Regions from separate parts of the Homo sapiens genome. Here region 1 is linked to region 2. Evidence: fine-mapped expression QTL. A gene starts in region 2. The other region holds a variant in brackets. All regions are shown on one strand. Distances are from middle to middle.

Region 1 (4,519 bases), 69 kb before region 2:
GATTTAAAAGGTCAACTAACCAAAACCAAATACAGTTTACCCTTGAACACCATGGGTTTGAACTGCGAGGGTCCACTTACAGGAGGATTTTCCTCTGCCTCTGCCACTCCTGAGACAGCAAGACCAACCCCTCCGCTTCCTCCTCAGCCTACTCAAGGTAATGGTGATGAGGATGAAGACCTTCATGATGATCCACTTCAATACTTAAGAATAGTAAATGTATTTTCTCTTCTTCATGATTGTCTTAACATTTTCTTCAGCTCACTTTAAGAATACTGTATAATATATATAATACATATAACATAAAAAATATGGTGTTTTTTTTTTTGCTTTTGTTTTTGTTTTTTGAGACAGGGTCTCTGTTGCCCAGGCTGGAGGGCAGTGGTGCGATCTCGGCTCACTGCAAGCTCCGCCTCCCGGGTTCACACCATTCTCCTGCCTCAGCCTCCTGAGTAGCTGGGACTATAGGCGCCCACCACCACGCCCAGCTAATTTTTTGTACTTTTAGTAGAGACGGGGTTTCACCGTGTTAGCCAGGATGGTCTCGATTTCCTGACCTTGTGATCCACCCACCTCAGCCTCCCAAAGTGCTGGGATTGCAGGCGTGAGCCACTGCGCCCGGCTAACATACAAAATATGTTAATCAACTAAGTTATCGATAAGACTTCTGGTCAACAGTAGGCTATTAGTAGTTATGTTTTGCAGAGTCAAAAGTTACACAAGGATTTCTGACCCTATGGGAGGCTGGTACCCCTAACCCCCACATTGCTTAGGGGTCCTATGTATTTGGAACTGTCCATATTTTTGACTTATGTTTTACGTCATTTATGTTTTAAATTAAATTTGATTTTCAGATTTCAAATATAACAATAACACAATATTGTCCACATGTGGGAATGGTGATTATCCACCCGCCCCACTATTCTGTCAGAGTAAAGTGTGTATCAGAGTAAAGAATTTCCATTACAACAACCCTTTAAGACATTTCCAGTGAATAATATGTGCACAGAGAATATTTCAATCACTAAAATAAAACACCAGGAAGTTTACATTCAGGCCCAACTACAATTACAGAGGGCAGCTGTTCCACCGATTTGAACTGTGTGGACTGAAGAATTATCAAGGCTGCAGCTCGGTGACCCTGCTGTGTAAAGGGCCTCAGATCTGATCATCCCAACTGCCCAGACCCTACAGAAATGATCCCAAGGATTCCGGGCTCCCACACGATGCGCGCTGGCTGCTCAACTGCTCACTCCTGCCTCGTAACCAGTGAATAAAATTAGAGCCAGTAATCACATCACAACACCAGGAAATTAGCCATTATTTGAAAAACATTTCATTTTTCTCATTAACTTAATTTCTTCTTTTTTACTAAGTTATATAATATTTAAATGTACATTCAGAAAAACTTCAAAATGGGAACTATTTCAATACATTGTTTCTCATTATCCCCTATGGTCTACTTCTTTCTATACTTTCATTCAAATCATTTTACATGATGTAACAGTAAGCAATCAAACATCTAGAACTAAAACCAAACCTGAATTTTAACACAGAAGCTTATTCCAGTTTAAAACCAATTTTATTACTTGGAAAACTTGCCAATAACTTAAAAATGTCTACATTTCTTCTAACGCTGGTCTGTTACTGTGAAAGGCTTTGGGAAT[TA/T]AAAAAACACTTAGGAAATGTGTTGGATGCTAACAATTTTAAAGTACTTCTTTTTCCCCATTATTAAGATGATAACAGGCAATGTCTATTCTGCACTAAATAATCCACTTTATCTGGATTAGTTACATCGTTGAAAGCTCATGAAAGCCCTGTGAGAGCAGTACTAGCAATACTTGCATTTTACAGATGACAAACCAAGGCTTACCCAAGCAGTCACACAACTAGCACGCGGCCAGGGGCAGCCTGTCTAGGCAGGGGGCGCCAGAGCACACGCTTCCCTCCATGCCGGGGGGGGGGGGTCCCAATTTCTTTGGTCTCAAGACCAGATGGCTGAGAACCCCAAAGAGCTTCTGTTTTGTGGATTTTACCTATTATGTTAACCTTATTAGAAATTTAAATAGCTTTAAATACATTACATGTTAGCAATAAACCCATTATGTTAACATATTTTTAATATATTTTTAAAAACTATTTTCTAAAATAAACAAATGAGAGATGAGTGGTGGGCTCAGTAGAAGCCATAGGATCTCGCATGCACTGTGTTCTGTCCTGTGCCATCACGCACCACGGGACCACAGTAACGCCACTGTGTGCTGGGGATCGCAGGAGAGAGGAAAAGAGTGATGCTGGCTCAGTATCACTATGAAAACAGACCCTAACAGGCCTCCGAGACCCCAGGCGTCCTGGGAACACGTTGTGAGAAGTGCTGCATTGAGACCGCTGACAACCAGTAGCCTTTCTATCAAAAATCCTTAACCCAGTAACCCGCGGATGGCCCAAATGCATTCCATCGGTAGCAGCAGCAGCTTTGCTAGCAGAAGAAAGTAGAAAAATAACCTTTAGAGGAAACCTCATTGTGAGCACACCTCACCAGTTCAGAGCTATCCTAAGTAAAAGAAAAAAAAAAAAGGTAGCTTACTAACTCAAAAATCTAAAAGTATAGGGCTATTCTGTTAGACAAAGGTGATTTAACGTTAACCACTAAAAATTCCCTTAACCCAGAAGGTTTCCTAATGAGGAATTTAAATCTTAATTACCATACAAAGGTCTAACCAGACCCAGGAGGAAATCCCTTCAGGACAGGACCATAGATGGTTCCTCCCCGGTGATTGAGGGGAGAAAAAAAAAGCCCACAATTGGTATTCAGTAATTGATAGGGAAACTCTTGTAGAAGCAGAGTTAGGAAAATTGCCTAACAATTGGTCTGCTCAAACGTGCGAGCTGTTTGCACTCAGTCAAGCCTTAAAGTACTCACAGAATCAAAAAACTCTATCTCAATCCTGACTCAAAAGGTTACCTACACCCTCTCTGAAACGAATTTGTGCAAGAACTGTTGTTTATGGGACTGCATCTTGATGGGGCAGCTGGGTTGTCATGAAATACTCAGGAACCCAGCCCAACTCTGGGACTCACCCCTGAGCGCAAAAGCGACGTTGGGCATGCTGGTAAAGGACCACTAGAATCCAGCAGCCCGGACTGCTTTCTTGGTGGTCAAGAAAGGTGGGAAAAGGGGTGCAAGACTGCTACATCAGTAAGCATAACTAATCCGATAAGCAGAGGTCCATGAGTGGTTACGCACCCTGGAAAGGAATAAGCATTAAGACCACAGCGGACACTCTAGGACTAATGCTCATCGGAAAATGACTAGGGGTGCTGGCATCCATATATATATATATATATTTTTTTTTTTTTTTTTTCAGATGAGAAACATTCCCCTCAAGGCAAAAATGTCCCCAAGATGTATTCTGGAGAATTCAGCCCAGTCAGAGTGTATGTACCTTTTTCCCTCTCAGACTTGAAACAAATTAAAATAGACCTAGGTACATTCTCAGATAACCCTGATGACTATATTGATGTTTTACAAGAATTAGGACAATCCTTTGATCTGACATGGAGAGATGCAATGTTACTGCTAAATCAGACACTAACCCCAAATGAGAGAAGTGCCACCATAACTGCAGCCCGAGAGCTTGGCGATCTCTGGTATCTCAGTCAGGTCAATGATAGGATGACAACAGAGGAAAGAGAACGATTCCCTACAGGCCAGCAGGCAGTTCCCAGTGCAGACCCTCATTGAGACACAGAATCAGAACATGGAGATTGGTGCTGCAGACATTTACTAACTTGCGTGCTGGAAGGACTAAGGAAAACCAGGAAGAAGCCTGTGAATTTTTCAGTGATGTCCACTGTAACACAGGGAAAGGAAGAAAATCCTACTGCCTTTCTGGAGAGACTAAGGGAGGCACTGAGGAAGCATACCTCCCTGTCACCTGACTCTATTGAAGGCCAACTAATCTTAAAGATTAAGTTTATCACTCGGTCAGCTGCAGACATTAGAAAACAAACTTCAAAAGTCCACCTTAGGCCTGGAGCAAAACTTAAGACACCCTATTGAACTTGGCAACCTCGGTTTTTTATAATAGAGATCAGGAGGAGCAGTCGGAATGGGACAAACGAGATTAAAAAAAAAAAAGGCCACCGTTTCAGTCATGGCCCTCAGGCAAGCGGACTTTGGAGGCTCTGGAAAAGGAAAACCTGAACAAATCGAATGCCTAATAGGGCTTTCTTCCGGTGCGGTCTACAAGGACACGTTAAAAAAGATTGTCCCAATAGAAACAAGCCGCCCCCTCATCCATGCCCCTTATGTCAAGGGAATCACTGGAAGGCCCACTGCCCTGGGGGACGAAGGTCCTCTGAGTCAGAAGCCATTCACCAGATGATCCAGCAGCAGGACTGAGGGTACTGGGGCAAGCACCAGCCCATGCCATTACCCTCACAGAGCCCCGGGTATGCTTGACCATTGAGGGCCAGGAGGTTAACTGTTTCCTGGACACTCGTGCGGCCTTCTGTC
Region 2 (4,000 bases):
ATTTTTATATAGCTAGGTGTCATAACTGTATTTTTAATTTTACCACACAATGTTATCCTTAGCTGTACCTATTAGGAAGGCTCAGTATCCAACACATTAGTAAAAAGCTAAAGTAATATTCAAAGCTGTAGAGAAACTTAACAGCAAGGATTGAGAGCATACCCTCAGACTGCTACCTTGTTCACATTTTTACTACCATTAATCTGATACATTGCTGTGCTCCACAGTGCTAAACACCCATCTTAATTAATAGTAGTTCTATTTAAGCATAGAAATGTCTTTTTTTGAAAGTCAGAAGTGAAGCTTCTGTTTACAAGTTTACCATATGGCAGACTGAATTATTTTTCCTACCCTACTGCTCTATAAAAGTAGAAGTAAACAGTATTTGCAATAAAATTCAGGATTTAAAACTTTTTTATTGCTAAAATCAAGTTGCCTTCATACTATCCCTTTTGTGTGGTTATAACAGGATTTATTCCTCCTCAGCTTTCATCTCTTTACCTCTTGACCACACTATTAACTACCGAAAAAAAACCGCAGCTGTACACGTACCTAGGTTTTAAAATCATACACTGAAAAACTAACTAAAATTACACTCCTAAATAACCTAAAACTGCTTCAAAGTTATATTCAATATTTTGAAATAAAAGCAAGCGCCCCAAGATGAGAGGTGCAAATAAATTATAGAAAGTGTATTTTCAGGCTTTCCAACCGCGAATGCTCTTTGTTTCTAACTGGAAAGGAGGAGTTAACAGAAAATAGAACAAGAAGAAAAAGTATGACCTTAGAGACACGTCACTTTACTTTGGTTGACAGAATTTCGTATATAAAAACATCTTAAATTGTACTTCCTCCCAAGCTTAAAGTCCTTAGAATGAGAAAACCGAAAGGCGAACCCAAGGCCAGCACATTTTATTTCCGCTGTCCCAGAAGCGCGCTGGGCGCACCCGAAGCTCCGCTCCAACAGCGCCGCGCCGCGCTCTCAGCAGCGCCTCCCGCTGGCGTCTCCCCACCCCACACCCAGGTCGCCGCCTCTGGCACACCTGGACGGCCGCAGGTGACCGGCGACCCACTCCGAGGATCTGGTAGAAACCGGCCAGGAAACCACTCCCGCCCGGAGGAGCGAGCCACTGTCAACTGGCCCGGAGGGACGTGCCCACTGCCAACCATGGGAGAGGAACGAGCCTCTGTCACCCCTGCCGGGTCACCCTGCCCTGAGGGGCGCCCACTGTCACCCCTGCCGGGAGAGGCGTCCCCATGGTCACCCTGTCCTGAGGAGCGCCGTCGCTTTCGTCCCTCCAGGTCCCCACTGCCACTCTGGCCGGGAAGGGCGTCCACTGTTATGCCTACCAGGAGAGGCGTCCCCAGTGTCACCTTGGCCAGGAGGGACGCCCACCGTCACCCACTCCCTGAAGGGGACTCAATGTCACCCCTGCCTTGAGGGGCGCCCACTGTCACCCTGCCGGGAGAGGACACCCACTGTCACCCCCGCCCTGAGGAGCGCCCACTGTCACCCTGCCGGGAGAGGACACCCACTGTCACCCCCGCCCTGAGGGGCGCCCACTGTCACCCCCGCCCTGAAAGGCGCCCACTGTCACCGGCTCTCTACGCCGTCCGCTTCGGGGTGTGGCGGTCCGGGAGGGATCCGGGTGGGGCCCCCCTGACAAGCGCACCCTCTCGCCTGGGCCCCGGCCCACCCGCTGCCCGGGGCCACCGCGTCCTCGCGGCCGCCCTCGTCGCGGACTGCACGGGTCGCAGCCTCCCGGGAGCCCCTCCGGGTTGCGGGGTTCGGCCTGCGGCGCTCGTCACCTCATGAGGTAGTCCCGGAAATCCTTGCTTCGGACATAGTCCGCCGCTTTCCGCACCAACGCGCCCGCCATGGCTGTGCCGACACCAGACCCCGAGTGGTCCCTGCCTCTGCTGCCGCTTCCCAGAGCCAATGACACCCCGGCCAACCCCCCGGCAGCCGACGGCGAGCCAGCCCGAAGGCCCGCCTCACGACACCCGGCCACGCCTTACGGCCGCGCCGCGCCGCCCGGCTCTCGGCCAATGACAGGGCGCAGGGCCAGAGATGGTGGCGCGGACTGGCTGGCTCGTGCCGCACGCCTCCTTCCCGCCCTCGGTGGCGCACGGGGGCGGGGCCCGCTGCCGTAAAACGGCTGGGGCTGGGCCGGGGCTGGCAGGCGGTTGCTAGGCTCCAGCGGCTCCCGGCCAGCGGGGACGTGGAGGTGACATTTCTCTGACCCACAGGACTGTGGGCGCCCTGCCGAGCGTCGCGCGGTCTTGGGGCGACCTGCAGTGGGGCCCCTGCGGCGCAGCGCGCGGTGGGACTGGCCGGGTTCCCGCGCCGCCCAGGGCCTGTGTCTGCGCCGGTTCCTGGCAAGGGCACCTTGGCCGGGCGGCCCGCGTCCCCTGCGCTTCCCACACCCACGTGGGCGGACCCGGCCCGCAAGCTGGGCCAGCCTGCGGTTTCCGGGCACTGGGGAGTGCGCAGAGCCCCGGGCCAGCGACCGCAGCCGGGGCCCCTGGCTTCTCCCGAGCACTTTCCCCCGGACCGGTCCCTCCAGGGTGGCGGGCGGCACCCAGGGCCGGCGCTCCTCACCAACGCGCTGCAGCTACGGGCTCAGGAGGGAGCCGCAGCGTCGGAGGAGGAAAGCATTTAAGAATAGCACAAAGCCTTAGGCTCGAGGAAGCGTGACTGCTTACGTGTTGAAAATAAAGGTTCTGTAAGTCCCACCGCGGGTGCATATTGAAAAGAAAGGGATCATTAGCACGCGACCCTCGCCTAGGAGTATATAAACCGCAGCACGACTTTCGGATCACAAAGGCAGAGAAAAGAACACATTGAAGGCTTTTGCTCACTTTTCCAAGTTGTTTCGTTTCGTTTTGTTTCTAATGTGGACGATCATTTAAAATGCCTCTGGTGGCCGGGCGCGGTGACTGACGCCTGTAATCACAGCACTTTGGGAGGCCGAGGCGGGCGGATCACCTGAGGTCAGGAATTCGAGACCAGCCTGGGCAATACGGTTAAACCCCCTCTCTACTAAAAATAAAAAAATTAGCTGGGCGTGGTGGCATGTGCTTGTAGTCCCAGCTACTTGGGAGGCTGAGACAGAAGAATCGCTTGAACCCGGGAGGCGGAAGTTGCAATGAGCCAAGATTGCGCCATTGCATTCCAGCCTGGGCAACAGAGCAAGACCCTGTCTCCAAAAAAAACAAATAAATATAACAAAATTCCTCTGGTAGCCGGGTGCGGTGGCTCACGCCTGTAATCTCAGCACTTTGGGAGGCTGAGGCAGGTGGATCACTTGAAGTCAAGAGTTTGAGACCAGCCTGGCCAATATAGTGAAACCTCATCTCTACTGAAAATACAAAAATTAGCCAGGCGTGGTGATGCGCTCCTGTGATCCCAGCTACTCGGGAGGCTGAGGCGTGAGAATCGGTTGAACCCGGGAGGTGGAGGTTGTAGTGATCCGAGATTGTGCCATTGCACTCCAGCCTGGGCAACAGAGGGAGATCCTGTCTCTAAAATAAAAAATAAAAGAAATGCCTTTGGTGAACAGGAATTCTCAACATTAGTGACCCGCAGTGTATTAGTGTTAATAATGGACATCCCCTTTGATCCAGCAAGCCCATCTAGAGATTTCCTAGGATAGACAAGCCAGTTTGTGCAATTTCATGTGTACAGCATTGTTTTTAGTATGGAAAGATTAGAGTTTACATATCTACCCATAGGGAGAGAGTTAAATAAATTATGGTGCATCCGTTTAGTGGATTAGTATACAGCCATTAGGAATAAAGGAATTCTTTATGTGCTGATATGAAATATCTTTTTTATTTTCAAGAAAAAAACCCAGGTTCTGAATAGTGTATAAAGTATGCTACTCATTGTGCATAGGGACAAAGAAAATATATACATTCATGTTTGCAAAGATACTGGAGAAATGTTAGTAGTGGCTGCCTCTAAGGATGACCAAGAGTGACACTGACTTTTCATTGT

Evidence for each region. PIP is the estimated chance that this variant, and not a neighbour inherited with it, causes the effect.
Region 1: its variant is the best candidate, but not a certain one, in a credible set for the expression of MPC1 in whole blood (TOPMed, PIP 0.87).

What each region holds. Positions count from the first base shown.
Region 1 is chr6:166,311,521-166,316,039 of GRCh38, forward strand. It overlaps LOC107986669 (a long non-coding RNA gene), which reads left to right. Exons shown (of 3, transcript XR_001744464.2): 3 at 3,369-4,519. Among named protein-coding and RNA genes, the nearest start is that of PRR18, 5.4 kb to the left of the region's middle. The variant TA/T (reference allele first, on the strand shown) is at 1,668.
Region 2 is chr6:166,380,997-166,384,996 of GRCh38, forward strand. MPC1 (mitochondrial pyruvate carrier 1) reads right to left here and starts at 1,944. Exons shown (of 5, transcript NM_016098.4): 1 at 1,810-1,944. The coding sequence starts at 1,880. MPC1-DT (MPC1 divergent transcript) reads left to right here and starts at 2,182. Exons shown (of 1, transcript NR_189630.1): 1 at 2,182-4,000. RefSeq lists an enhancer at 1,087-1,266 and silencers at 1,627-1,726, 1,877-2,616.